Homo sapiens: one gene and its partners. The protein of the gene in region 3 purifies or fractionates together with the protein of the main gene of each other region. This does not show direct contact. Each region holds a gene or a part of one and is shown on either strand. Other genes may lie near its edges. The genes, in order: SLC25A14, PPTC7, HS3ST4 and PPP4R3B.

Region 1 (7,697 bases), on a different chromosome or scaffold from region 3:
CGCACTACTTTGATTTCTTCCACCAGATTATAAGCTCTTGAAAGGCAAGTACTGTATTTCGTACTTTTTTCTCTGTCCCATCTCATTGGTTATTCAGAAAAGACAGGTTGAGTGGTAAATATTGTCTTGGTGCTAGAACGAATATCTGTGTTTTTCAAATATGATTATACCCAAAGTGCATTGCAGGTTTGGGCATTTAGCATGCCTTCAATAAATATCTGCTTGGCTCTCCATTGTTACCTTCTGAATCTGAGAATCTCTAATTTCTACTCTTTCTTAAAGGAGAAAGCAGGAGAGGCACCCAGAGTTTCCTGACCAGATCTTGGGAGTAGTATAGGGCAATGTAACTTGTATTGTAGGACATTCTTACTTTCACTCATTAGTCTATCAAATTCTCCGAAGTCAGATCTTCAGAATAAATGTTGGCATTTTGAAGACAATTTTCATTGGTTTCTTTATACAGTAAAAATATTTAGGGTACTATATTTTTATTTTACCTTAGATATGACTACTTTTACGCATATTTGGGGTTAGCCCCTACAAGTTAAAATAATTTTTAGAGGGCTTGGGGTATTTTACATAAGTAATTCCTTGGAACAAAAGCAAGGGAACAGGGTTCGCAGGCAGAGAATATCTGGGGATCAAGATAGTGTCATACACAGGGTGTGTAGCATTGGCCAGGTCCAGCAAGTTACCTTCCTTGTTTCCTCTGCAATCTTTTATATACAGGCTGCATACATAGGTAAAGGATGTCACACTGCAAAACCAACTAAGTATTGAATGGATATGTATTCAATTCTATGCAAGCTATAATGGGGGTTATAAAAAGTACTGTGAGATATAGTATCTTCCCTTGGGGATCTTACTTAGTTAAGAGAGGAAATAACATTGGACATCTTGAAGTTGACCCTCATCCTAGTCATTATTTTTATGCCTGAGATTAAGATATAGAAGGGATAAAAGAAGGTTCAAAAAATATTGCACACCTGTAGAATAGGTGTGACACAACACGCATGCATGTAGACAACTTTATGTAAAAGACTTGGAGGTTTCAGCTGACAGTTTAATGATTTGATAGTGTGATGTGGCTCCCAAAAAAGTGAGTGCAATTTTAAGCTCTAGTAATTGAAGTATAATGTGTCAAATGAAGAGAAAGATCATGGATATTTAGCTCAAGAAACATGAGATGTAAGAGAACATCATAGCTGTCTTTAAATATTTGAAGGGCTTGCCTAGGGAAAAAAGAATGCATTTGTTGAATATTACCTCCAAAGACTGGGTACAAATTAGAGGAAGACAGACTTTTGGCTCAATATGAGGAGGGAGTGTCTAAAAACAGATCTAATCAAATATGATCCAGGATTTCTTCATAAGATTTTTTCCTAACATTGGAGTGAAAGAGATTTTACTATCAGATGGGGGTAGGGAAGTCGTGATTGTGGCAATGGTGGGTTTTGCCTGTGGTCTCCAGATTTTTGGATTTCATGGGCCAGTAAAATGTAAATGAAAATGTGGGAAGGGTACACAAATACAGGCTAGTTAGCCTGTGCTCCAGGCGTAAGAAGAATCTGATCTGTTAATAATAGACAGTCCCTAAATTAAATACATTTAGCTGAAAAAAAAAAAAAGGACTAAGTGTCCTTATTTTTTTCATTTCGCCCCAGAATTGTGGGAACTTCATTAGGGAACCACTGGGCTAACTGGCCTAAGATTCAGCGACTGGTCTTTCATCTTCCTGCCATGTCCTCCCTGTTCCTTGCCTTTCACTGATTCATCATTGCTCCCTGAGCACATTTTCCTTATTAAAGGGCTGGTAGCAGCTTGTGAAGTTCCGATAGAGGCTTTCTCTGTAATACAAAGAGTTGAAAAAAGTTGTAAGGAGAAAAAGTTTTGGAGAGACAACTTTAAGTAAAAGTAGCTGTCTGAAACCTTTAAGACTATTTGGGGCAATCGATAAATTTGTGAATGGAGAGTTAATTTTTTCCTCACAAACTCAAAGAGGGGATATGCCATGGTCTTGCTTTTCCATCTCTACTCTCACCATATGTGTCATATTTTACTATCAATTCTAATTGGAAAATGTGGGCATAGCTAGAAATGGTGATAAGGTAGTATTTAGTCTTCAAGACTCCTATTTCCAGCTGCAGTTGATACTTGAAGTGGCTATTCCTACTTTGCTCATTAGAATTCTTTTCAACAACTTTCCCTCAAAAGGGCTATCTATCCCAGACTCTATATGTGCTATGCTTGAAAGGAAGCCTCCATAATGATTTTTGTGGCCTGTAACTAAAACATTTAATCAGCGTGTTTGCTATCTTCTCTGGAAAATTGTATTTTGCTTAGTTACAGAGAATTCCTTATGTGGAAACAAAGCAAAACCTTCAAAGGGATACTGTGACTCATAGCTGCTAACCCCAGACTGGGCAATGGGAGGGAGGGGTGGGCAGCAAGTAATATCTGTTAAGATGTAAATTTGGGTACTTAAATTTTTAAAAATGTAATAATGATAGTTAACTAACAATTATTGAGCTACATGCCAGGCACTTTTAAAGGTGTTTTTCATATATTATTTAATTTTCACAACAACCCTATGATATAGTTTTTATTATTAGTTCCATTTTACAGTTCAGAAAGTGGAGGCATAGAGAGATTAACTTGCCCAAGGTCACAGAACTAGTAAGTGGTGGAGTCAGGAAATGAATCTGGAGTTAGCATTTAAATTTTAACAGTCTGACTTCAGGAGTCTGCATTCCTCACCATAAACCACTTGGAAGTTGCTTTTGAAATTCAGAAGTATACATACTGTGAAGCTCTGAAAAAGGAATATTTGAAAGAAATCTGAGAGTCCATGCTAAGAACAGATACTACTTTCAGATGGACCAGGATTTAGTAGGCAATGCCTAGAGCAGTTCTTAAGTGTGGAAGTATCAGCGTTATTTGGGATCTTGCAAATTCTCAGGGCCATACCACCAATCAGAAACTCTGGGGGAGAGGCCCAACAATCTATGTTTTAATAGACCTTCTAGATGATTCTAATACATGCTAAAATTTGCAAAACCTAGAGGCCAGAGCTCTGGAAAAAATAAAATCCAAGAGAGAGCAAGCTGACAGTGGCAGAAAAAGAGAGTAAAGCTGAAAAGATTGATGATGACAGGTCTAACGGGGGTGGGATAGGGAAGGAGAAAAGGGAGGCTGGGAGCAGAATACGTTGTTAAAGAACTAGAACATAAAAGAAGAACAGTATTTATATGTGTGTGTTTTAAAAGGCCAAGAGGAAGGAAAAGGAGATCCACTAGATGGATGTACGTTAAATGTCAGAGGGAAGATAGACATCATATTGCTATCATTCCTTTGGGCGCTAGAAGGAAGGTGAAAAAGTTCTTAGCTCAGCCTGGGCCTAGTTGGGGGGACAAAGTTATATATAGCTAGAAACCCTATAGTAGAGAGATAGGAGGGCTAAGAATATGAGAGAGTAGTAGTGTGAGCCTGTGCTTTGCACCTGAATCAAGCTAACTGAATACCATGAACTGCTTTTATGAGATGCCTCAGCCTATATAATTTGAATTCCGGGTTCCTTCATTTGTAATTATCTAGTTGAATGTCAAAGTTGGGTGTGCTGGATGGACTGAAGCCTCTTCTCTGGGTGGGGATGAATATAACATTAAAGAAACTGGAGAGAATGAAGGGCACAGGTTGATCTCTGAGTGAATCACACGCCTACCCCTACAAAATGTCAGTAAAGAACAAACTCATGATCATCCAGCACATAAAACAGGATCCCCCATTTTTGTGTCATTCCACTTGGTGGGGTTTTTCTTCTACATCTATTTTATTTGCCAATTTTGTTTATCTAAATTATATGATCAGATGCTAACAAATGCTCCTCACTCTTGTGCCTTGTTCTGATTTGTGTTTATTTTTAGCACCAGAAAAGTACCACTGTAAGTCATGAGATGTCTGGTCTGAATTGGAAACCCTTTGTATATGGCGGCCTTGCCTCTATCGTGGCTGAGTTTGGTAAGAATGTGAGAAATGACAAATCTGCATTATACGGTATAGATGGTAGCTTATGATGATGGTTATTTTTGGTGAAAGCTAGGTAAAAAATAAGAAGCTCGCCTTATTTTGAAAATTGTCTCAAAGCCATGAAGTAATATTTCAGGGAAAGTACTACTGATGGTATGGCAGATGAGTTAAGAAAAGTCAAACTAAGGAAAGCTTTTTTGGTAGTTTAGTGATTTGTTAGTTTGCTAGGCTTAAGTAAAATACATGAATATATAGAGGGAGTTGATATGTCATAAGGGTTTTTGCTATATTTCTGTATTAATAGTCTTTTATGCTAAATTATTTATAAGTTTATTTGTACTGAAAGTCCTTTTTTTCAAACCTCTTTCCCATTTTAGAAGAAAATGTACTAACAAGATCAAACAAGATTCTCTTCTACATGATTTTGATTTTGAAATATTTTTAGATTGTCGTTTTTTTCATCTTCCAGATGTTCTCTTTTCTAAACTATTCATGAGTGACTACTGACGTTCTTGGCATATCCTGTGGTGTTGTGATATTTGGGTCATCAGTGACCAGAGCTACCTAATCACCTTGTTAGTTTTACACCCTGAAATATATTTTGTCAATGTGATGACCACTTCTGTTTGTTGATGTAAGAGGTTTGGTTAAAGAAATTTCCCCCCCAAACACTCTGCTGGTATTAGTCCTGAATTACCTAAGGGACCAGGATGAGTAGAACCAAATAAGACTTTGCCATTATCTTTCATAATATTAGGGGACTATTTGTTTCTTGTAAACAGATAAAAGAAAAACCCCACAAAACTTTGTAACACTATATAAGAGCATCTGGAGCAGCAATCCCATGCTTTCCTATCTTTGTGAAAATTTAGGGAGATTTTATGAGACACAGAGGTGGGGAGACTTGGGGTGGGAAGGGGCAGGAGGGAGACTGATAAATGCCAGATTATATGTTACAGATGAAATAAAAAACAACATTTAATTATTTTGCATTTATAATAGGGCAATCTGAAAGCATTTTATTATATTACAGTTTGAAGTATATTGTGGGTCAATTGGTGCTGCCTATGTATAGTATAATGCATTTCACTTACCACATGCAACTCATGTTCTCTGACAGTGGTATTCTACTAGAGCTCTTCTATGTGTTATAAAAAGGACTTTGTCTTAGGATTCAAATATTGTCCTTGGCTTATATTTAGCAACAACTTAACTGTGATTCTTTGGACATACTTATAAATAAGTGTGTTCCTTTATAGGGACTTTCCCTGTGGACCTTACCAAAACACGACTTCAGGTTCAAGGCCAAAGCATTGATGCCCGTTTCAAAGAGATAAAATATAGAGGGATGTTCCATGCGCTGTTTCGCATCTGTAAAGAGGAAGGTGTATTGGCTCTCTATTCAGGGTGAGACTGGTTCTTTCCTTATATCATTAACAGAAATGCTTTTTAAAGAAGCCATAGTTTTCAGCTGTCTGATAGTTTGTGTCCGTTTCATATTCACCATTTCAACTTGTAATTCAGTATTGATATGCCAGTTTATATTTCTCCTGCTTGTAAGTCTTGAGCTTTGGATTTTGTGTTCATTTGGTTATAAGTGATAATAACATTTTAAAATGGATATGTCATTGCAGCATAGGCTTTCTGTGGATTTCCCGAGAGTCACTAATAGCCACTGTTAATAACAGCACCAATTAATTATATATATTTTTGTGATATCCCTCCTGAGTTGGCAAATTCTGACTTCCTTTAAAATTTTCCTCTTTGAAAAAATATTATTCTTGCAGTTTAAACAGAAAGTGCATAATGAGAGAGAGGGAGACCCATCTTTATCATCACCTTTTGATTAGCCATAATTTTGTGGTTTACTGTCTAGTTTGTAGTTTATCTGTTGCCAGTTTCCTAGGCCACTCCTGCATCTAGGCTACCAGTTTATTACTCAGAGAATAGACATCAATTTTATTGTTAAACTATGTTACATCGTTAAACTATGTTAGACTTAATTTAAAAGGTAATTTTCTTGGGGGAAAAATCAAGTAGTGTATCCTGAAGCATCCTGAAGATGATCCACCATCCTGATTTGTGGATCATCTGTTTCACCTTGTTCTTTCATCAGCATAGATCATCACAAGATATTTTCTGATAGCAAGCAATAAAGTCAGAAATATGCATATTTAGTCATCATTTAAAAATCCTAACCATTTGAGCTGCTGCTGTCTTTCTATTTATACCTCCTACAGTATAGTTCTGCAATTTGGAAGAATCCCAAAGGAGGTATGAATGAGAATGTCTCCAGTTTAAAGGAGAACTTAAATAGGGTGGAATTTTGGCTCTAGTACCTCCTTGTTGATGTGATTAAAGACGTATCTGCAACTGTTAGGAAGTAGAGGTTGATTTTTTTAAAAAAATCTTTATTAGGTGAGCAATGATGTATAATTCTTTTTATACATTGCTGGATTCAATTTACCAATATTTTCTTAAGGAGTTTTGCATCTAAGTTCATGAGAGACATTAGTCTGTGGTTTTCCTTTTTTGTACTGTTTTTGTCTGGTTTTGGTATCAGGGTAATACTAGCCAAAATTAGTTGGGAAGCATTCCCTCTTCTGTTTTCTGGAAGGAACTGTGTAAGCTTAGTGTTAATTTTTAAAATGTTTTGTAGAATTCCCCAGTGAAATTATCTGGGGCTATTTCTTTTTGGGGAACATTTAAATTCAGAGTGCAAATTCTTTAAGGTTATCATAGTTTGGGGTGCTATAACAAAATACCATAGACTGGGTGACTTATAAACAATCGGAATTTATTTCTCACAGTTCTGGAGGCAGGAAATCTGAGATCGGTGCCAGTTTGGTCAGGTTCTGCTGAGGTCTCTTTTCTGGGTTGCAGACTGCCAAGACTTCTTATTGTATCCTCACATGGCAGACAGAGTGAGGGAGCTCTCTGGGATCCCTTTTATAAGGGCACTAATCCTGTTCATGAGGGCTTTACCCTCATGACCTAATCACCTCCTATTACCATCATATTGCGGGTTAGGATTTTAAGATCTTGATTTGGGGACGATACAAACATTCAGTCCATTGCAATGGGTATGAGTTTTATTCAGATTATTTGTTTTATCTAGTTGAGTTTTGGTAGCTTCTGGTTTTCAAGGAATTTGTCCATTTCTTCTAAGGTGTTGAATTTATGAGTATAAAGTTGTTTATACCATACTCTTATTGTCCTTTTAATGGCTGCAGGAATTGTAGTGCTAGTCCCTGTTTCATTTCTTATTTGCATCTTCTGTCTTTTTATCTTTGTGAGTCTTGCTAGAGGTTTATCAATTTTGTTGATTTTTTTTTAAAGAGCTAACTTTTTGTTTCATTGATTTTTCTCTATTTTCCTATTTTCAATTTCATTGATTTGTGCTTTTTATTATTTTCTTTTGCTTGCTTTGGGTTATTTTGCTTTTCTTTTTCTAGTTTCTTGAGGTAGGAGCATAGATTATTGATTTGAGACTCTACCCCCCCCCCCCCTTTTTTTTTTTTAAAATGCAAGCATTTCATGCTGTAAATTTCCCTCAGCACTGCTTTGGCTGCATCTCATACATTTTAATAGGTTGAATTTTGTTGTCATTTAGACCTGTGAATTAAAAAAAAATTCCTTTGACAGACACTTGGTCTGACCAATAGATTATT
Region 2 (7,697 bases), on a different chromosome or scaffold from region 3:
TATCTTTTCTTAGATGAGTGTCCAGAGTAAGGCAAAGCCTCAGATTTCAGTGTCTTTAACAATCTTATAGCTTTATAGGACCTGGCACAAACATCACTGGCAATTCATAAATGTTGATTAATGGACAATGAACCTTTTGTAAAAATAGAAGCATTCTAGCAAGTACTTGTCTCTACTTAATAGCTCTCATTAAACCATCTCTTAGGTCCAAACTAAGATAAAATGAATTATTATTGCCATCTTTTAAACTGGAACGAGCATGTTATGTAATTAAATGTTCAGCATTGCCCATCTAAAAATTTAGCAGTAAAAGTAACTTTTACCGGTAAAAGTCTAAATATTCTTCCAATTATGGTCACCAGTCTAAATCCAAAAGTAAAAAGTAAAAGTAGGCGGGTGACCATAATTGGAAGAGTATTTGATTCTAGGCCCTTCTAAAGTTGGCTGTAATCTACATTATTGTTAGCCACACTGGAGTGGGGAGAACTCTGAACCCCAAGGCCTCCGTAGAGCCCAAGCTCAGATCACAGTTTTTGGAGACTGGTGCTTCAATTTTTTCTTCATTTGATTCTTCTTGTTGGGCTTCCAAGCACCAAAGCAGCCCTGCCATATCTCACACACTGTCTGTGGGACAGACAGGTTGGGGCAGTACTCTGCCGGCATGCCAGCGAGGTGGAGGTGGCTTCCCCTAGAGCCCAGAGACAGCTCGCTAGCATGTGATTTCAGCTCATGTTTCAGTGCGGTCAAAAGTTTCCAGCAGCACAGTATGTTCAATCAAAATGGGCAAAACTGCAGCTGGCAGAACACCAAGCTCATGGGTGGGAGTGTTAGGAGAGGACGAACTGTCCAATGGGAGCAAGACTCTCACAGACAGAATAGCAAAGGACACTTCTGGGGAAAGAAAAACCTCAGCATAAAACAGAGCTTCAGTGCCAACCTGGTCATTAATCTACACTTCTAGAATCTGATTAGCTTTCAAAGGCTGAGCAGATGAGAGCGTCTTGCATTGTTTTCTCTTTATTCCACAGAAAGAATTGACCTGATTTCCCCCAGTTTTACAGTCTTTTTCCCTTTTTTTTTTTTCATGCTGCATGTATCTCCTTAGTTAATGGTCCCTCTTATCTACAGAATATTATTTTAACCTTAACTTACAGGTTTTCCTTTAGTAGACATTTTTACAAAATGTTGATTATCTAAATATGTAAGTGAAAGTCGGTTCCCTGCAGCAGCACATGGCAGAACTTTACATGTGCCACCTTTTTCCTCAGTCAAGTGAAGATGAACCAGAAATTTTCTGAGTGCATTTAGTGTGAATCCTCATAGGCATGTGTGCTTTTGTTTGTTAGTTTTTATGCTTTCTCTTCACAAATGTTGTCACATGTTGCTTACACAAGTGTTGGGGTTTTTCCGTGGAGCTTAGGGTGCTTTGGATCTGGTGCCTCCCTTCCGGGTCGGTATCTGATTTGCTTTCCTGGCTCTTGTTCCTTAATTACAGATTAAGGCGGATTATCAGATCTCACCTTTCCCTCCCCAGGGAGGCCTGGAAGGAGGGAAACTGGCCTTAAGAAGTCGCCAAGAACCAGCCTCAGGAGGCCATGATCTCTGAATATAGGATCTTTTCTCCCCACCCGGGGTTTTCCCCCATTTTTATGTCTGTTTTCATCAGGCATTGTCAGAGAAAAAGATCTTCCATCTGTTTTTTTTTTCAAGAGTTGTACACAAAAAAGTTTAGTGAGACATCTGCCTCCTGTTCCTGCCCTTAGCCACATATTCTGTCCTCAAAGGTTTCTTTATGAGCAGTTTCTTTAGTTTCTTTTTCTTTTTTTTTTTTTTTTTTTTTTTTTTGAGACAGAGTCTCGCTCTGCTGCCCAGGCTGCTGGAGTGCAGTGGCGCAATCTCGGCTCACTGCTACTGCTGCCTCCCTGGCTCTAGCAATTCTCCTGCTTCAGCCTCCCGAGTAGCTGGAATTACAGGTGTGCACCACCATGATCTAACTTTTTGTATTTTTTAGTAGAGACAGGGTTTCACCATGTTGGGCAGGCTGGTCTTGAACTCCTGACCTCAAGTGATCTGCCCACCTTGGCCTCCCAAAGTGCTGGGATTACAGGTGTGAGCCACCACCCACAGCCCGCTATGAGCAGTTTCTTTGATTCTCTCCAGATCTATTCCCTGCATATAGAAGCATCCATGTCTGTGTGTCTTTCTGCCTTTTTTTTTTTACGGAAATGGTTGCACATACGACACACCGTCTTCACCTTGCTTTCTTCAACAGTATATTGAAGAGTTTTTTCCCCCAATTTGGAGAGTCAAATATTTTGCTGCTTCATTCAGTTATGCAACAGATATTTCTTCTATTTTTTTTTTTTCTTGAGATGGAGTCTTGCTCTGTTGCCCAGGCTAGAGTGCAGTGGCGCCATCTCAGCTCACTGCAACCTTCAGCTTTGGGGTTGAAGCAAGTGATTCTCCTGTGTCGGCCTCCCAAGTAGCTGGGATTATAGGCGCACGCCACCATGCTTGGCTAACGTTTGTATTTTTAGCAGAGATGGGGTTTCACCATGATGGCCAGGCTGGTCTTGAACTCCTGACCTCAAATAATCTGCTTGCCTCGGCTTCCCAAAGTGCTGGGATTACAGGGGTGAGCCACCACGCCTGGTCAAGATATCAAGATATTTCTTGAAGACGTGTTACATGAGGCACACTAATAAATACCTACGTATGATGACCACTTTGGGACCCTTGGGAGACACAGAGTCCTTACTATGCCAAAATACTGTAGCTATTTCCGGTGAATGTATTCTTTTTTTTTTTTTTTTTTTTTGAGACGGAGTTTAGCTCTCGTTGCCCTAGCTGGAGTGCAATGGTGCAATCTCAGCTCACTGCAACCTCTGCCTCCCAGGTTCAAGTGATTCTCCTGCCTCAGCCTCCCTAGTAGCTGGGATTACAGGCGTGTGCCACCACGCCCAGCTAATTTTTTGTATTTTTGGTAGAAACGGGTTTTAACCAGGCTGGTCTCAAACTCCTGACCTCAGGTGATCCGCCCGCCTTGGCCTCCCAAAGTGCAGGGATTACAAGCGTGAGCCACTGCGACTGGCAAGTGAATGAATTATTTTTTTCCTTTTTCTTTTTCTTTGAGATGGAGTCTCACTCTGTTGCCAGGCTGGAGGGCAGTGGCACGATCTTGGCTCACTGGCTCACTGCAACCTCCATCTCCCGGGTTCAAGCAATTCTCCTGCCTCAGCCTCCTGAATAGCTGGGATCACAAGCGTGTGCCACCACGCCTGGCTAATTTTTTAATTTTTAGTAGAGACGGGGTTTCACCGTGTTGGTCAGGCTGGTCTTGCACTCCTGACCTCAGGTGATCCACCCACCTTGGCCTCCCAAAGTGCTGGGATTACAGGCGTGAGCCACCACACCCAGCAGTGAATGAATTCTTATAAGATTGGCGGCTGGGCGCAGTGGCTCACGCCTGTTATCCCAGCACTTTGAGAGGCCAAGGCGGGCAGATCACGAGGTCAGGAGATCAAGACCATCCTGGCCAACATGGTGAAACCCTGTCTCTACTAAAAATACAAAAAATTAGCCGGGCATGGTTGCGGGCACCTGTAGTCCCAGCTACTCGGGAGGCTGCGCCAGGAGAATGGCGTGAACCCAGGAAGCGGAGCTCGCAGTGAGCCGAGATCGCGCCACTGAACTCCAGCCTGGGCGACAGAGCGAGACTCTGTCTCAAAAAAAAAAAAAAGATTGGCATGTTGTTCTCCACAGGTATTCATCATCCCACCCTCACTATGGCACTCCAGGACCCAGATTCAAATATTCGAGGAAACTGATGAGTGAAATATGTGAATAAGAGGGGGTGGGCTGGGTGGCTGGTGATTACAGTGGCTCATGCCTGTAATCCCAGCACTTTGGGAGGCCGGGGCAGGCGGATCACCTGAGGTCAGGAGTTCAAGACCAGCCTGGCCAACGTGGCAAAACCCTGTCTCTACTAAAAATGTAAAAACAAATTAGGCGTGGTGGTGCATGACTGTGGTCCTACAGGCACTATTTTACATGCCTGTAGTCCCAGCTACTTGGGAGGCTGAGACAGGAGAATCGCTTGAACCCAAGAGGCAGAGGTTGCAGTGAGCCTATATCGTGCCACTGCATTCCAGCCTCGACAACAGAGCGAGACTTGTCTCCAAAAAAAAAAAAAAAAAAGGCGGGGGGGGATGGAATTCGGCTGTAAAGAATTAGGAATAAAGACTCATTTCCACTAGGATTTTAGAGGTGTGTTAGATCTGACTCAGAAGAGGACCCTTCCTCCCTCCTTCTCAGCCACTTGTGACTAATCATCAGACTTGGTTTTACTCGGTAGTTTCAGTTAAAAATTTGAAACATTTATATTAGAATTTTCGATTAACTTTTTTCAGAGTTGGGAATTTCAGAATGACTTTTTTTAAAAATTGACTCCATTATGATAAATCAGTTTTTCTTGCAGAAAGCTTATTACATTGTAAAATAGTGCCTGTAGGACATTTTCAACTCATCTGTAAAGGGCCTTCTTAACTTTGTCCCTCCCCTGTCCTTGCCACAGTCCGGATGCTGCTGATAGCACGTCTTTCGATGTCCAGCTAGGAGACATTATCCTGACGGCAACAGATGGACTCTTTGACAACATGCCTGATTATATGATTCTTCAGGAGCTAAAAAAGTTAAAGGTAATTAACTCAAAGGTTAGCTCTTGGGAAAAGTGGCCCTCTCTGGATAGCTGAGTTTTATGGATTCAGTTGCATTATCTCTTTGTAGTTTTGGAAAGAACTATTTTGTGAATTTCAGGAAAATAATAATAGCTCTGGTCTTTCAAATAATTAGAGCACTTGGAAAAAGAAGCTTCCTACCCAAGGTTTTCATAGGCTGGTAGAAGTAGGAAAAGTCTAGATGGAGGGCATTTCTTGTTTGTATCTTTATTTATATTTTAATGGTGTCGGGTCCTGGTTGTTTCTCCTTTTATTCTTCTAACACCCAGCAGGTGTTGAATCAGGCAAAGACAGGAAATAGTCATGCCAGAGCCAGCCAAAGGCAGCAGGCCACTGGAAGCCTCAGTGTGACCTGAGCTGCCACCAGTAACCAAATAGTATGGGTTTCTCCCATAGAGGAAGGAGGTGAAACTAGGCTTTCAATTTTTTCCTGGCTTTGTGAACATACTCTGGGAAAAATGAGTCTTTTTCTCATGAGTCTTTACCTCTAACCAGTATGACTTTGGGTACGTTTCTTTCTTTTTTTTATTATTTATTGAAGTTGCTGAGATCTGAGGGTTTCTTAAAACTGTTTAAGCAGTATTTTCTTCATATAAAATGGGGCATCCTAAAGATCCTCTTTTATAGGGTTGCAGTGAGGATTAACTACAGCCCTGTGTAGGAACTCCTTAGCGCCACGCCTTGTCTGTGGAGTGCAGTCAGTGTGAGGTGCTTCCTTGTCACAGGCACCGTGCTCTGTGTGGTGACACAGTGGTGAGCAGAATCTACACAGTCCCTACCTGTATGGAACTTACATCCTAGTGGAGGAAAATAGATAAATACAGGGAAGTAAATCTATGATGTAATGTGGGTGCTAAATAAGAAAAACAAAGCTGGATAAGGGAATAGAGAGTAGAAGGGACTGCTACTACTTTAGATAGATTGGTCAGGAAGGGCCTTTTTGAGGAGGTGACATTGAAGCAGAGACCTGTCATTATACTGAAACTAGAGCTGAAGTGGACCTCGTGTTCCCATCCCCGTTTTGCAGATGAGGAAGTTGGAGCAGCAAGGATAAAGGTATGGCCCAAGATTTCACAGCTCGACAGGAATCTCTTCCTGATATAAAATTCTGAAGGTATTTTCACTAGAGCAACTGGTAGCTCTTGGAGAGCAAACTGGGGTTGGCCAGGCTGTGTTCCTAAGCAAGGAAGCTTTTGAGGTATCCTTCAAAGGCTATCAGAATCTGCCTTTTCAGTTCATCCTATTTTAGCAAGAATACCTTAAGAATTTCAAATGGGAAAAAAAGCAAAAATGAAAATCCAAACTTTAGGGCTTAAGGCCACCAAAGCAAAGGACTTTCTGATTGATACCTTGTGCAGGCAGCACTGGAGTCTTGTTCATATTAGCCAGGGCATGATGTTTTAATGTCTTTTCTAACTAGAATAAAACTTACATGATGGAAAAGGTGGTTAGATAAATGTTACTGTCTTGAGCATTATGGTAAAATAACTTCCTCATGCTTTATCTTAGAATTCAAATTATGAGAGTATACAACAGACTGCCAGAAGCATTGCTGAGCAAGCTCATGAGCTGGCCTATGACCCAAATTATATGTCACCTTTTGCACAGTTTGCATGTGACAATGGATTGAATGTGAGAGGTAAGCATTCTTTGGGAAGGTCATAGGGACTGACTGGGGACATGGTGTCAGTAGAGTGGAGCATTCTGGGCTCTGGGTGAGACTGTGGAGGTGTCCTCTCCCAGCCCCCAAACTGTGCACTTGTGGCTTTCAGCAAGGTCAGGAGGATGAGAGCAAGTGCATTTCGTCATGTCTTCCCCACACAGCATGCCCTTCAGAACTGAACCTCATTGGCGGCAGAGGCAGGTGGAACCTGAAGCCCTTTATTGCCGCCACCGCAATGCTTGGACCTGAACCCAAAAGGCTTCCGAGCTCTGCCCAGAGTGCGTGGACATTCCTAACAGTTTAACATTCAGCCTTTCACGTGTCTGACATTTCGCTTCTCCCTTCCTCTGGCTTTGTGGGACTCAACAGTATTTGCCTGACAAATTGCCACAGCAGGGTTTGAAGAGGGAAGCAATGTGAAACTGCCCTTGACTGAAGACTTGTCCTATCTACAGCATGATGTGTGACTTTGGGAGCAGGCCAGTGGCTCCGTCTCAGGGCTGGGACATGTTGGTGCTAGCATATCAGAGCTAGTAGAATTAGTTTCTTGTTGGTATAATTTTATGACATGTGAAACATTTCTTAGTCCTCCAAAAAATGTTAAAATAGAAAAAGTGCATGCCATAGCTGTTTGGCAGATTAGAATACAAGGCTATTCCTAGTTTCAAAACATTGGATATGTCTGTCTAAATTAGGATTGTGGGTATAGAAGCATGTAACTTTCTCGTCAGATTCACTGTGATTGATGTGAACAGAGGGTGTGGTGGCTGTTTGAATAGAGCTCCTGTTGTAAAGGAGCAGGGAAGATTTTTTTTTTTAAGCTTCAGTTTCATGTAATTTCTTGGAGTTTTGTTTAACTGTTTTTTTTTAATCAAATATTTTTTTCTTTATTCTACTAGGGTATACTGACAAACCAAAACTGCCTGGAATGCAAGCATTTGTCTCCTAGTACTTAATTTAAGTACACATTTTTTATTGACTTTTCCTTTTAAAATATACTGATAGGTTCTCATTTTCATTGTAGGTGGAAAGCCAGATGACATCACCGTCCTTCTTTCAATAGTGGCTGAGTATACAGACTAGCTGAGGTGTCAAGTCCTGCCTTTCCTTTCATCATCCCAAATTTCCCCTGCCATGTGTGCTGATCCTGCTGGCAGGACCACATTTCTTTGCCACTGATCTCAATGGCCAGTGATGTAAGTCTTTTGCCTGTCTTCTTGAGACTCGTTGAGATCTTTGTTGAGAACCACTACTATCATTCACTAGCTCATATCTGCCGGCAGCAATTGAAGAGATCC
Region 3 (7,697 bases):
ACAATTTTTTTTGCACACCTAGCATCTGAACACCTTTCAGTTTTGAGAGAACTCCCAGCATAGGCAGAGGACAGTCGTGTCTTCTTCTAACAAAGGTAAAGAGGGCAGACATTCTTCTCCCTACTCCCTGGCAGGTGGAACTTGAACACAGGACATAGATGTCCACTTCTTATCTGGATCTCCCTTGGATTTCAGCCTCCTGTGTCAACATGATTACTCAATCCCTCCACCTGGGTATGTAGGACATATCTCATATTACAAGTCTGAAATTGACTTGGTATCTTCCCCTAAAACCTGCCCTGTTCCCAGTAGTGTCCACATCAGTAAATCATGCTACCATGTAGCCACTGGCACAGGCCAACAATGTTGGTGTCACCTGTGATGCTTCTCTTTCTCTTGCACATACATCCCACCCATCATTAAGGACTTCTGGCCTTATTTTAAAATCTACTCCTATTCTGAGCACTTCTTTCTGTGTTGCCCTCTCCACCTACACCCAGGCCCCCCACCATTTCTCTCTTTCTCTCCTAAAATTGTCTCTTAGCAGGTTACTTTCCTTCTATCTCTGCCACACTCCTATCTTTTCTCAGCAAAGTTACCAGAAAAATAAAATTAAGTGTAAATTTTATCACATTCTTCTGTGAGATATTCTTCAGTGGCTTCTCATCACATGAGGAAAACAATTCCAGTACCTTTTCCATGGCCCATAAGGCCCTCCATAGTCTATTCCCTGTCTGTCTTCCTGGCCCTATTTTCTGACTCTCTTACCTTTGCTCACTGCCCTCCAGCGTTACTGGTCTTCCTTCTGTTTCTCAAGCACACCAAAATGTGAGAACATGAGTATATTGAAGTGTCAGATGCAGTTAAAATGAACTTACTTAAAACCTAGAAGAGAGAAGAGAAATTGAGAGAAAAAGTGCCTGAAAGGTTGGAAGAGAATAAGATCCAAAGCCCAGGTTAGCAGGGGGTTTTGTCCTATCCACAGGAGGGATGCCTCCTCTAATCTTACAGGAAGAGGGAGACCAGCATGGTTTGGAAGTAGTTACTGGATCGGAGCCCCAGGTGAGAGATGAAAGTGGGGAAAAGGAAGATTAAGGCATCAAAACCTTTCACAACAAAAACCTAGCATTAGGACTGGCCTACACTTAGGAGTGGAGATTAATGGCTTGTCATTCACCCATCTATTCACTCAACAGATAGGCACTGAGAACCTGTTATTTGCCAGGACCTGTCACCGATCCTGGTGTTGAATTACTCTTGCTCAGCCACTCAACTTAGAAACAAAATACATACTTAGTGAGACCTTGGAACAAATCTTTAGCTTCTGGTCCTGTTTCCTTCTCTGTAAAACTGGAGTAATAATGATGCCTGCTCTGTTGATTTAAATACTTCATTATATGATGCTATAAAGAGCTCTTTATGTATCAGCTGTGGGAGCTAGACTGGTAGCTTAGTGGAGGAAGGGACTGCATCCGTTTTGTTTACTGTTACATTACCCATAGTGATCATTTATGGAATGAATGAAAGAATGAATGAATGACTATAACTGATTCAGAATCAGTTTGAGGAAAGGGAGCTTTGTCCTTTATAGATTTCAAGCAACTACTGGATATCTTCTCACTGACAAAATAACTGGATAACTCATGCCACATTGGTTGAATCATGGCTCAATGAGATAGTCTCCCCATGTGTGCCCCAAATGCAAAAACTCTCCTAAAGTATATACTTTTCACATTCATGGGTAGCATGAAGGTCAAAGCTATTTAGTCTCCTCTGCTCCCCTCTACTGTCTCCAAAGCCTTCTGCAATGCCTTCTCTTATTTCCTTTTGCAACAAGCAGTAAGTTAGGCACACATCTACTCTGCTAAATCTACCAGCTTATATGTTGGGTACCATTTTGTCCCAGATACTTCAGATAAAAGACTCAAGATCCACAAAGATCTTGACAGATCGTCAATCAGCTGAAGTAAAGGAGATGAATTTGAATGGGGCTCAGTGCAAAGAGAAGCATTGAGGTCTAAGAAGGCAAAGGTGAAGAATGGATGAAAAGAAAAGTTGAGCAGCTGCTCCTACACTAAAGAAAAATGCAACAAAATAATGTGTTTAGTTTTGTGTGTCAAAAGTACATCAGGGGAACTAAAATCTGGAAAAGGCCGTATAAAAATAGCTATTTTCAGGTGATGTGTTTTTGCATCAAGATTTATCTAATATTTTTATAATATGATATGAGTTGCATAATGAAACAAGGGAATATATCTCTCCACTTGAAATAAAAATAAGATGGTCAGTATATTTCCTATACTCAGGCTGAGCTAATGGTAGCTCCCTTGTTGGACACCAGCCTCCAGATCCGGAAGTGCAATTGATGATATTGGCATGAATTAGAGTATACTTTTTTCTAGATCAGTTCCTTAGATACCATGTTTTCCTGCCTTTTCCATTTGGTCAAATGAAGTATTTTTTTTTTCCTTGCCCTTCTGTAAGAATTACTGTAAGAATAATCCTGATTTTGGCCAGCTGGCTTAAGTTAAAAAAATTCTGACATTGAACCGGCATGATCCCAAGTGATTTACCTGCATTATGACATTTAATCTTCATTAAAATCCTATGAGGCATGGCCTTTTATTAACCCTATTTTCTTTGATGAAACATTAAGGGTCAAAATGGGTTAAGTAACTTCATCAAGGTAGCATGGGTAATCAGAACTCTTAATTCAGGCAAATCTGATTCCCAGGGGCTGCATTCCTTAGCCCTGTTCCTCCAAATTAGACAAATTGATCTGTTGAGAACCAAACAGACACACACAAAGGCATTCAAACTACTTTGGAGAATATGTCACTCCAAGATGAGCATGGTTGTTTATGGCCAGGGCTATTGCTTTGATCTGAAAACACCACGCTGCCCAACCATTATACTAACAACATCCAGCTCTTTGTGAATTTCTCTACGAGGCAAATTCCTCTTGCCTCATAAAAGTGCTTGCCGAGATAGCTCAAAACCCAGTTGCAATTAATTATTGACAGAGCATGTGAATTAGAGATAAAAGAAAAGTCATTCTTTCTCCACACACGCGATAGTAAATAAATTTAATTATGGTAGGAGAAGCTAGGGGATCTTTGTCTGTATTAAGTTTTATTAGCTAAGACATTTAAAAGCATGTCATCATAACAAAGAGGTCTTGTGTAATCCTAAATGCACCACTTTGGTGCAAGGCTCAGAAGTGAATAGATTTAATGGAGCACATGGTGGCAGATGGCCTGCTGTACTGACAGGTATTGAACAGGTTTATCTTCAATTAACTTTGGTCTACATATGCCTGTAGCAAATTGACTGTATAATGGCATTCTAAGCTTAATTTTATCATTGATAAGCCTGCCACATTGAGATTAGGGGAAAATGGCATCAAACCCCTTTAATATTAATATCTTGGAGCTCCCAAATAAGATAAGGCTACTCTGGAGGCAAACTCGGATGGAGGAATGGGAGTGGAGGAGCAGCCTTAGCAAAGGAACCAAGAGATACTGACCCTGGTATGGGATCTGTCAGTGGCTTTCTGGGCAATTTTGGGAGCAAAGAAAGAATAAAATCCCATATATTGAGCCATACCTATGCTAGATCTTTCATCTTATATGTCATTTTCCTCTCAACTGAATTTTCTTTTCTTTTCTTTTCTTTTCTTTTCTTTTCTTTTTTTTTTTTTTGATTGAGATGGAGTCTCACTCTGTCACCCAGACTGGAGTGCAGTGGCACAATCTCAGCTCACTGCAACCTCTGCCTCCTGGGTCCAAGTGATTTTCCTGCCTCAGCCTCCCAAGTAGCTGGGACTGCAGGCGCGTGCCACCATGCCCGGCTAATTTTTGTATTTTAGTAGTGATGGGGTTTCACCATATTGGCCAGGCTGGTCTTGAACTCCTGACCTTGTGATCTGCCTTCCTCAGCCTCCCAAAGTGCTGGGATTTGAGGTAGGTTTTAGGATTTTACAAATGAGGATAATAAGGCTCGAAGATATAATTCAATTTGCTGAGGTCACAAAGCCTGTCTGATTTCCATGTTTATTCCCTGTCCCTGGGCTTCGGTTTTCTCATTTGCACAATAATACCTTTGGACCAAGTCAGGGATCAGCAGACTCTTTCTTAAAGGAATAAGGAGTAAATACATTAGGCTTTGGGCCATATGGCCTCTGTCTTACCTCCTCAGCTCTGCTGTTTTACTGTAAAAGCAGCCTAGATGAATATGTAAATGAATGAATGTGGCTGTGTTCCAATGGAAGTTTATTTATAAACATTGAAATTTGAATTCTATATAATTTTCATGCATCACAAAATATTATTATTATCTTTTTGGTTTTTTTTTCAACAACAATTCAGTGATTACAAATCATTCTTATCTGTGAGTTAGACGAAAATAGGAGGCAGGAGGTAGTTTGCCAATCCTGGACTAGATAAGCTTTGAGGTCTTGTTGAGCTCAAAGATTTTCTAAAAACTACTATAACAATAATAATTTCTTTAATTTATTGAACTCTTACACATGCCAGCTTCATTGCTCAATGCTTTTTGAGCATTATCTCCCTTAATCCTTATACTACAGTGTGAAGTCAGTGCTATCATTATCTCTGTTTCAGGGATTATACAACTAATACGTAGAGAAATCAAGGGTGTATCTAGGTTAAACATAACTGGTAAGAGGTAGAATAGCCATTTAAACCTAGGGATATATAAGGGAGAGAATGTATATGCCTTGTGTTGCCTTTTCTGATAATACGTAGCCAGGGTAAGACTATAGTCAGGAGATATAGGTAAGAAGAACTTGCAAGAGTTTATCAATTTTATTTGGTGGTTCCAAACTAGGTTGTTTATATCACACATTTTGTGCAAAGAAGTTCAGATATTTCTGGACAGGAATAACCATTCTCTTCCTTTTTCCTCCCTCTCCTAGAAATGTGATGCCCAAGACTTTGGATGGGCAAATAACCATGGAGAAGACTCCAAGTTACTTTGTGACAAATGAGGCTCCCAAGCGCATTCACTCCATGGCCAAGGACATCAAACTGATTGTGGTGGTGAGAAACCCCGTGACCAGGGCCATCTCTGACTACACGCAGACACTGTCAAAGAAACCCGAGATCCCCACCTTTGAGGTGCTGGCCTTCAAAAACCGGACCCTCGGGCTGATCGATGCTTCCTGGAGTGCCATTCGAATAGGGATCTATGCGCTGCATCTGGAAAACTGGCTCCAGTATTTCCCCCTCTCCCAGATCCTCTTTGTCAGTGGTGAGCGACTCATTGTGGACCCCGCCGGGGAAATGGCCAAAGTACAGGATTTTCTAGGCCTCAAACGTGTTGTGACTGAGAAGCATTTCTATTTCAACAAAACCAAGGGGTTCCCTTGCCTAAAGAAGCCAGAAGACAGCAGTGCCCCGAGGTGCTTAGGCAAGAGCAAAGGTCGGACTCATCCTCGCATTGACCCAGATGTCATCCACAGACTGAGGAAATTCTACAAACCCTTCAACTTGATGTTTTACCAAATGACTGGTCAAGATTTTCAGTGGGAACAGGAAGAGGGTGATAAATGAGGCTAGAGAGGCAGAGGAAGGCTAGTCAATAAGCTAAGGAGGCTCCTTGCCTGAGTCCTTGAATACCCCAGCTTCTGCAGCTTCACTTGCTGGAGTGCCAAGTAGATCTCCTCCTCCTTCATGCAGCCAGGATTGCCTCCAGTGCTGTTAGCTTAGGCAAACAGGTGGATCCCATGGCATCCCCATGGAGGAACCAGGCCCATCTGGGCAGCAGCATCTGGTTGACCAGATGGCCACCAGAACCCACTGTTCATTCTTATCTTCTGCTAGTTAATATAGCCTGAAGACAGAGGATAAATAGTTGTCAATGTCAGAGACAGTGCTATTAATGTATATGTGAGCGACAAAAAAGGTCTGCTTTATAGGGGTTCTCACTCTAGCTTGGGGAGCCAGGGTTCTAGCCCTGTATCTGTCATGGGCACCTGCTGTCTAAACCTCTGCTTGGGCTTCTCCCCAGAATGCACTTTGTGGCTGAGTGCTCCAGGACTCCTAGGGAGCAAGGTCCTCCCTCTAAGGTGTTTCTAGTCTTCTCTTTAAAGGTCTCATCCCACAACCCCTGACTTCCTCCCTCCCCACATCATGAAGGCAGAGGCATGCACATTCCTCACTGAAAAAGAAAACACACACCCACCCACACACACACACACAGAAGAAAATGAAAGCTGACACACCTCGAAGCCTTCTTTCCAAGAGCCCTCTAAATGGGGTTGGGTCTCACTCTTCATGAGTATCCTGGGTTGTGCAGAAGCTTAGCATATGCCCTTGTGTTCGGATCAGGCCCACAGGGCTGCTCAAAGAGTAGAGTAATTGTAACCGAGGTCAGAGCTCTGGGGTTGGCAGAGATGAGTGGCCATATCTGGGGGTAAAAGAAGAAATCCTGTCCTCTTGGTGGGAGGTTACCTTACCTGAAGACCATCTCTCCCAAGCACTGTAGTTCTGAGCATGTTTTTGGGGTGGACTCTGTCCCCTAGGGTCCCTAGAAGGGCAAAGACCAGAGAGTTGACAAGTCTGTTATTAGGAATAATCCTTAGCCATGTAATGGAGAAAGGAGCAGTCAGCATTCTTCCAATTTGCCCCACCACCACCTCCTCGGGCTTCATTTTCTCTATTTAGAGATGGCAGAGAGTGAGGTAGTGGCGAGAAAGCTGACTCCATTCATCAGATCCAGTTTATGAGGGTTGGGGGTGAGCAAGGGCTGTCTGCAGAAACCCCCATCAAGAGCTGCTGAATGAAGTGTCCCTTCCCATCAGTTTGATTCAATTAAAATGCATCATTTGACATAAAGCACTTGTTCACAGATCTCCAAAACCAGGAATTGTTCTAGTAAAACTGGAAATTTGTATGAGTGGGGGGAGTTAAATCTGTTCAGCTGTTATTAAACTGTCATTTCTCCCGCTAAATGAAAACCGTGTTGTTATAAAGCTTAATGCAACCTGATTAATGAGTTTCGATGGTGTGTTTGTGTTGATCATCTCCATCTTCCCGCCTCCCCTGGAATGCCAGGAGCATCATCTCTCTGAGATGGCTAGAAAGTCCCAGAGGCAAGAATCTTCAGAAGGTTCTGTCTGCAGGGCACAGTGAATCTTGCAATAGTACAAAGCAAGTGGGTCCTAAAAGGAGTGCAGCTTTTTCCTATCTTAACCATTTCCAACAAGGAATGGACTGATATGCCAGATTCAAAAGCAACCTTACAAATAATTTTTCCAGATAGTAAAGCAGTTATTGAGCTGAAAGCAACAGATATACCTGCACTATCAATGTAAAAGAAGAAACAGATCAAAATGCGTGCATGTACATTTGAAGGAAGAAAATGCACCCATATTTAGAAGGGCAAACTGTGGGACTCATGCGGGGTTTGGTTTCATAAGCAGAGCAAGGAGTGAGTGAGTTTCAGCCCTCCCTACCCATCAGAGTCAGCCATGGAGTTTGTTCAAGCCTACTGCTTCCTGAGCTCTGTTTCAGACCTGTTAATGAGTCAGAAACTCTAAGGTGAGGCTCAGGAATTCATCCTTTCAAAAATATTCTTAGGGAAGCTGGAACTGAGAGCAACTGGAGGAAAAGGCTTGTCTGTATATTTCTTTGCCTCCACTCCCTCCCTCCTACCTCCTTTTATGCTTTTGCTTT
Region 4 (7,697 bases), on a different chromosome or scaffold from region 3:
GACTCAAGCAATCTTCCTCCCTCAGACTCCCATGTAACAGAGACTGCGGGCACGTGCCACCATACCTGGCTATTTTTTTTTTAATTTTTTGTACAGATGGGGGGGTTTCACTTTGTTGCCCAGGCTGGTATCGAACTCCTGGCCTCAAGCAATCCTCCCACCTCAGCCTCCCAAAGTGCTAGGACTACAGGCATGAGCCACCATGCCCAGCCTACTTTTTCCAAATACTTTTAGTCTTAATATTTTAGGTTAGGGTGAGTAAGTACATATTTACCTCCATTCACACCTTTTATAAATTTCTATTTTCCTGCATCTGTTGTAGATTACATCTTCATCCTTTACTACCTGAAAATTTAATTTTTTCAAAATATTTTCATAAGAAAAAAGTTCCAACTCCTTGATAAATGCAATTTCCCACTTGAATTCTTCTTATATGATTCGGTACTTGTGAGCTGATAAGTAGAACTGCATAAAATATTACAGATAGAGGCAATCTCAATTATTACAGTCCATTAAGAGAATATGTATTCCTAGTATTTTTTCCCTGATTTCCAGCATTACTCTGGCTATTATTCATTAAGCTATAAAAGCACTCTGTTCCAATATATTTATGAAGGAAGCAAATAATCAATAACTTAAAGCCTATCATATAGTTGAAATACTTACTCCAAAATCTCTGGTTCTCCAAGTAATCAAACTAATCTCTTTTAGTTTTTCTTTTCTATTTGGTTTTAACAGCTTTTGTTTTAATAAAACCTATATATTTAAGTCAAAACTTGTGTGGCTGCTTTTCTGGACAACATAAAAAAACACTGTGGGGAAAAAAAGAGGTTGCTTCTAAACAGTCTAAATCAAACTCTTCTCTTTGCAGTAATATAAATACAGGCCAAACAAAAGAAAAAACAGAACCCATTCATTTTTAGAAACATATAAACACAGAAATTTAGAATTAAATCAGATTTTGCAACATTACAGAGACTGTCAAGTCCAATTTTAAATTTCAAGAGACTGAGGTTCAAAAAGTGAACCTTTCTGAGGGTAGCTAGTGACAGATGGATTTAGAATCCAGGCCTCCCAAATAATTAATGAGGTTTTTGTCACTCCTACTAAGTAAACCACAAGACAGGTTTCCAAGTATTTCAAACTTCAAACGTATGAATCAAACCAAAGCAAAAGATACACAAAGCTGGAATGGGCCAAATCTAGTAAGATAAAATTTAATATATTAAATCCTGTACTTGAATCCAAAGAAAAATCCTAAAAACAAAATGAAAAGCCCTATTACTCTAAACAGTTTTTTAAAGAGTATCTGAAGATTTTACATACTTAATCTGTAACTGGGATGGGAAGTTAGAAATTTTTCTCTTTCCGTGCCAAAACCTTAGCATCTGCAAAATATGTTAAAAAGAGAACTAAACCGCTAATCCTGCTGGGCTAATTTTAAGCTTAACTCTTACCTATGGAATAGCAGAAATATGTATATAATATAATATATGTAAATGTGTTAAAATGTCAACATTTGAGATTCCTATCCTCCATCATTTCTAGTAAGGAGAGAAATTAAAACTTTGTTCTGAAAAGGATCTTATTCTATAACTGTTTGTGCAGAAATAATCTCATTTTACTTGCTTTCAAAAATTTAATTTCTGGCTGGGGGCAGTGGCTCATGCCTGTAATCCCAGCACTTTGGTAGGCTGAGGCGGGTGGATCACCTGAGGTTGGGAGTTCAAGACCAGCCTGGCCAACATGGTGAAACTGTCTATACTAAAAATACAAAAATTAGCCAGGCATGGTGGCTGCTGCCTGTAATCCCAGCTCCCAGGAGGCTGAGGCTTGAGAATCACTTTAACCTGGGAGGCAGAGGCTGCAGTGAGCCAAGATGGCGCCACTGCACTCCAGCCTGGGTGACAGAGCGAGACTCTGTCTCAAAATAAATAAATAAATAATTTCTAAAATATTTTAAAAGAATGTTGCTCAATTCTGGGCACAGGGGATTTTGATCTGCAATTAGCTAGAACATTTGGAGTCACTAAAGTCTTATGTCCCTATCATGCTTAAGATATTGTCAACATGTATTAGCACACATACTAGGAGCCACTGACTATGCTAAGTACTCTCATATAATTTCTCAGTTAATTAACCTAATTTAAGCTAGGATTTATGATAAGGACCTTCGTACTACCTCACTTCGGCCCAGTTACATAAAATTCTTACATATTCACTTGCCTTCTACAACTCACACAGCAGCAAGTTAATGCGCATTTAAGAAACCACAGGTAAGTGTACTAGATACCCAGATAGGTATCTAGAAACACCTACTACCTAACCAAAAATTTCTACATGGAAATCTCAGAGTGAGACTTTAGGAAATAAGTGCTTAGAGGCCACTGTAGGGCCAGGTGTGGTGGTTCACATCTGTAATCCCAACACTTTGGAAGGCTGGGCACTAGGATTGCTTGAGGCCAGGTAAGAACAGTTTAGGCAACATAGCAAAACCCCACCTCTACAAAAAATAAAATAAAATAGAGACCACTGGCCACAATCTTATTTCTTTCCTTTTCACACATAGTTGAAAACACAATTCATACCCAAAGGAAAAAAAAGCATTATATTAAAAAGACACCTGCACTTGTATATTGATCGCAGCACTATTCATGATAGCAAAGTCATGGAACCCACCTAAGTGTCTACCAACAGATGATCAGACAAAGAAAATGGGGTGTATATATACACTGTGGAATACAAATGAAATGTTAAAAAATAATGAAATCATGTCTTTTGTAGCAACATGAATGGAGCTGGAGGCCATTATCCTAAGTGAACTCAGAGGCAGAAAATCATATATCGCATGTTCTCACTTACAAGTGGGTACACAAGGACATTAAGATGGAAATAACAGACACTGGGAACTCCAAAAAGGGGTAGGATGGGAGAGGACTGAAGGTTTAAAAATTATCTACTGGGCACTGTGTTCAATATCACGGTGATGGGTACACTAGAAGCCCAATCTCCACCATTACTCATGCAATACCCATGTAACAAATAAGCCTATGTGCCCTCTGAATCTAAAATAAAAAAAAAAAAAAAAAAATTCAACATCATTGCTGGCACATAAGAGATAATTAAGTAGTAAATGTTATGTAAATAACAGACAGTTCACAGAATCTGGCTATTTCATGAAATGCATCTCATGAAGCAGAAATGAGTAAATCTTTTAGAAAAATAAAAAGCTGCACTTGATTTACGTAATTATAGCCTTCACAAATAAACCTATTATAAAATACATAAAATGACAAAGTTTTACAAATATTTATAGTTCATATAATTTATTTTCTGAATATAAAAAAGTATTTACGATTTACTAGTATGAATTTGGAAACCCTTCTGAAGACAAAAACAGTCATTTGAAAGCTACATATGAGCTTCTGTTCCTGGTCCTCTTTTTATCAACTACAGACTGTGACTCTGTCCAATCTCCTAAGATTATTAAATGTTTTTCTGTCAACAAGTGAAATAGCACCCTGAATTGTATACTACAGTTTAAAAATACACAGGTCCTATATATTATAAAAAGAACCTGATATGTACATCTAACCTCCCCCACACTCATTATTGGTGAATAACAAAAAATTGGTAGGTGAATAAATGACCTGAAAGAAAAGTAAATCCTATGCAAAAAATTAAAGTAAACAATAATAGGTGACTACTGGTGGGAAACGTCGCAAAATGAAGTCGATTAGCTAGGCACTAAGTCAGAGATAGAATCTCAATTATTTGTATCAGGACCCTTTTAAACTTTTTTTTTTTTTTTTTTCAGACAGTCTCGCTCTGTCACCCTGGCTGGAGTACAGTGGCACAATCTCAGCTCACTGCAACCTCCGCCTCTCGGTTCAAGCAATTCTCCCACTTCAGCTTCCTGAGTAGCTGGGATTACAGGCACGTGCCACTGTGCCTGGCTAATTTTTGTATTTTTAGTAGAGATGGAGTTTCGCCATGTTGGTCAGGCTGGTCTCAAACTCCTGACCACAAGTGATCCTCCTGGCCTTGGCCTCCCAAAGTGCTGGGATTACAGGCATGAGCCACCACACCCAGCCTAAACTCTTAAGAATTATGCAGAGGCTGGGTACAGTGGCTCATATCTATAATCTCAGCACTTTGGGAGGGTGAGGAGCATCACTTGAGGCCAGGAGTTTGAGACCAGCCTGGGCAACACAGTGAGATCCTGTCTCTATATAAAAAATAAAATAAATTTTTAAAAATTACAATTAAAACCAAGACTCGTGAAAATATTTATGAATTCATTTTAAAATAAGTCATTTTATGTTTATGTAAATATTTTTTAAGAGAAACAGCTATATGATCCAAAATTTAAACTTTTATAAAAAAGAGTAGCCCCTTTTACATTTTTGCAAATCTCAATACCTGGCTTAACAAATGACAACCAGATACTCATTTATCTTTTCTGGCATTCAGTGTGTTGCAATATGTTCTTTAAGCAAAAGTACATGAAAAAAAAAAAAAAAACACAGCCTCACACTGACATCAAACTAGAAAAAGGAAAACCTCATAAATGCCTGTAAGAGGGGCTCAGGGACTTCCAGAGGTCCACAAACCACACTCTGAGATCCACAATACTAAGTATATAGTAGCTGCTCAATAAACTTAGTGAATGATATGGAAATAACAAAAGCAGTTATGCAGAAAGCTGAGTATAGGCTACTGTTACAAGTAAGACAAGTACTTAAAAAGCATGCTTACTATACTGTTAGGGTGTAAAGGATTAACATGATAAATATAGTATAAAACTCCTATTTCACAACTCAAGGAGACAGAATAAAATCACCTTCATATAGCAAATAGCCACATACTCGTATACACCCCAATAATAACAGTATCTCTCAAAATGGAAGAAAACATACTTTTAACCCTTTACCCATTGAGAAAAAAAAAGTACAGCTTGCTGCAAGGACTCATTTAATTTTACATAAACACGCTCTTTGAGGCCGAAGCAAATCTGACTTTCAAGGTGAAAATAAAATATAAAAACTGTTCTTGGAGTTATTTCTAAATAGAACTAACATCAGAATTGTTTGAATCATCAGATTCGTCTATTTCGAAAAAAAAAATCAGATTCAACAAACGAATCCTCGGGCAACAACTGTTCGAGAATGACAATACCATGTGCAGGACTGCTATGTTTTCTACGATTTGACATTTTCAGTGATTAACAATTACTATAGTTTGTAAATGAAAATATCACTATTAAAACCAGAATGCTATAAATAGAATGATGTCTTCTGTTTCCAAAGTCAATATGCCACAGCAATGCAAAAATAATAATAAAAGCTAGGTATTTTGTGGCAAAGTTATCTCAAGGTAAACACTGCAGCCAAGCACTACTGGCGAGTATTCACAGGACAGACAGGAAAAGGGTTAAATATAGCTGCATTGGCCAGGTGCAGTGGCTCACGCCTGTAATCCCAGCACTTTGGGAGGCCAAGGCGGGCGGATCACCTGAGGTCAGGAGTTTGAGACCAGCCTGGCCAACATGGTGAAACCCTGTTTCTACTAAAAATACAAAAAATTAGTCGAGTGTGGTGGCGTGTGCCTGTAATCCCAGCTACTGGGGAGGCTGAGGCAGGAGAATCGCTTGAACCCAGAAGGTGGAGGTTGCAATGAGCCGAAATCACACCATTGCACTCCAGCTTGGGCAACAAGAGTGAAACTCCGTCTCAAAATAATAATAATAAAAAATAGCTGCATCATCGATATATATAATAGGCAAATTCATAAAGAGTAGAATAGTGGTTACTAAGAGCTGGAAGGAGGGAATATGGGGAGTTACTGTTCAATGGGTTCAGAGTTTCTGTTTGGGATGATGAAAAAGTTCTGGAAATGGATAGTGGTAACTGCTGCATAACACTGCAAATATACTTAATGCCAATGAATTGTACACTTAAAAATTGTTGAAACTGGCCGGGCACAGTGACTCATGCCTGTAATCCAAGCACTTTGGGAGGCCGGGGCAGGTGGATCACCTCAGGTTGGGAGTTCGAGACCAGCCTGACCAACATGGAGAAACCCCCCTCTACTAAAAATACAAAAAATTGGGCTGGGCGGGGTGGCTCACGCCTGTAATCCCAGCACTTTGGGAGGCTGAGGTGGGTGGATCACAAGGTCAGGAGATCGAGACCATCCTGGCTAAAATGGTGAAACCTTGTCTCTACTAAAAACACAAAAAATTAGCTGGGCGTGATGGCGGGCGCCTGTAGTCCCAGCTACCCGGGAGGCTGAGGCAGGAGAATGGCGTGAACCCGGGAGGCGGAGCTTGCAGTGAGCCAAGATTGCGCCACTGCACTTCAGCCTGGGCGACCGAGCAAGACTCCGTCTCAAAAACAAACAAACAAACAAACAAACAAAACTAGCTCGGCGTGGAGGCACATGCCTGTAATCCCAGCTACTCAGGAGGCTGAGACAGGAGAATCACTTGAACCCAGGAGGCAGAGGTTGCGGCGAGCTGAGATCATGCCATTGCACTCCAGCTTGGGCAACAAGAGCAAAACTCCATCTCAAAAAATAAATAAATAAATAAATAGTCAAAACGGTGAATTTTATGTTATGTATATTCTACCTCAATTTTAGAAACACAAATACTAAATTGTATAAAAAGCTAAAACACAGGCTACTTAAAAATATAAAAGGCTGGGCTGGGCGCGGTGGCTCACGCCTATAATCCCAGCACTTTGGGAGGCTGAGGCGGGCGGACTGCCTGAGCTCAGGAGTTCAACACCAGTCTGGGCAACACAGTGAAACCCCTTCCCTACTAAAAATACAAAAAAATCAGCTGGGCATGGCAGTGCACACCTGTAGTCTCAGCTAATCGGGAGGCTGAGGAAGAAGAATTGCTTGAACCCGGGAAGCGTAGGTTGCAGTGAGCTGAGATTGCGCCACTGCATTCCAGCCTGGGCGACAGAACGAGACTCCGACTCAAAAAAATAAATAAAAGGTTGCACTAAAACCACAAGACATAAAGTCCCAATTTCTTTTGTTTACTTTAAATGTACTTAATAGTACATTTAAACAAAATAAATCTTTCAAAAAATAGAGGGTATAAACACCTGCTTGAACTATTAAGGGAACTAAATATCTGAAAAATGGAATCGTGAAGAGTATCTTTTTACTTACCTGCAACATGCTGACTATCTCAACTTTGTTGAAGAAAATAAAAGACGTAAGAGTAGAAAGAAAATTCTCTTCAAAAACAGATGGTGTGGGCAAAATGATGTCCTGAATGTACTGTACCCTGTAAGTCTGATGTATTTTTTGCCTTAGTTCAGAGTCTGTTATTGGTATAACTTCCTTGAACTTTGCAGTTTTGGTCAAGAATTCTCTATGTCTTTTTGGCTGAGCCAAAGCAGGGTCATATTCAAGGCATCCCACGACATCCATGATACACTCATCAGAAAACATTACCTCAAAAAGAGTTGCCTTATTTAGGAATAAGATTCCTCTAATAATTTCATACAAATGGTGTAAGCCTTCAGTGTTTTCTAGGTTCTCGCAAGCTTGGAACAGCTGCAATAGTTTTTTAATATAGCCTTCATTTTCCAAGGCGAGAGCCAGCTTTTCCCTACGGATAGGTGAGGAGAGCACTGAGGTAACTAAGTCAGCAATCTCTTCAAGTTTATTGAGTTCAC

The links.
Region 1: the proteins of HS3ST4 (region 3) and SLC25A14 purify together in Homo sapiens (affinity purification with mass spectrometry; one large-scale study listed by BioGRID and IntAct). This does not show direct contact.
Region 2: the proteins of HS3ST4 (region 3) and PPTC7 purify together in Homo sapiens (affinity purification with mass spectrometry; one large-scale study listed by BioGRID and IntAct). This does not show direct contact.
Region 4: the proteins of HS3ST4 (region 3) and PPP4R3B purify together in Homo sapiens (affinity purification with mass spectrometry; one large-scale study listed by BioGRID and IntAct). This does not show direct contact.

What each region holds. Positions count from the first base shown.
Region 1 is NC_000023.11:130,341,259-130,348,955, forward strand, and holds part of SLC25A14 (brain mitochondrial carrier protein 1 isoform 1 precursor), read left to right. Parts: intron 1-3,923; coding exon 3,924-4,017; intron 4,018-5,285; coding exon 5,286-5,433; intron 5,434-7,697. UniProt on the Homo sapiens protein: Transports inorganic anions (sulfate, sulfite, thiosulfate and phosphate) and, to a lesser extent, a variety of dicarboxylates (e.g. malonate, malate and citramalate) and, even more so, aspartate and glutamate and tricarboxylates.
Region 2 is NC_000012.12:110,536,822-110,544,518, reverse strand, and holds part of PPTC7 (protein phosphatase PTC7 homolog), read left to right. Parts: intron 1-4,573; coding exon 4,574-4,697; intron 4,698-5,763; coding exon of another isoform or gene 5,764-5,790; exon of another isoform or gene 5,791-5,792; intron 5,793-6,245; coding exon 6,246-6,375; intron 6,376-7,423; coding exon 7,424-7,482; 3' UTR 7,483-7,697. UniProt on the Homo sapiens protein: Protein phosphatase that plays an essential role in mitochondrial metabolism and biogenesis. Positively regulates biosynthesis of the ubiquinone, coenzyme Q. Dephosphorylates the ubiquinone biosynthesis protein COQ7 which is likely to lead to its activation.
Region 3 is NC_000016.10:26,130,676-26,138,372, forward strand, and holds the end of HS3ST4 (heparan sulfate glucosamine 3-O-sulfotransferase 4), read left to right. Parts: intron 1-4,936; coding exon 4,937-5,573; 3' UTR 5,574-7,010; downstream 7,011-7,697.
Region 4 is NC_000002.12:55,591,231-55,598,927, forward strand, and holds part of PPP4R3B (serine/threonine-protein phosphatase 4 regulatory subunit 3B), read right to left. Parts: coding exon 7,186-7,697; intron 345-7,185; exon of another isoform or gene 281-344; coding exon of another isoform or gene 275-280; intron 1-274. UniProt on the Homo sapiens protein: Regulatory subunit of serine/threonine-protein phosphatase 4 (PP4). May regulate the activity of PPP4C at centrosomal microtubule organizing centers.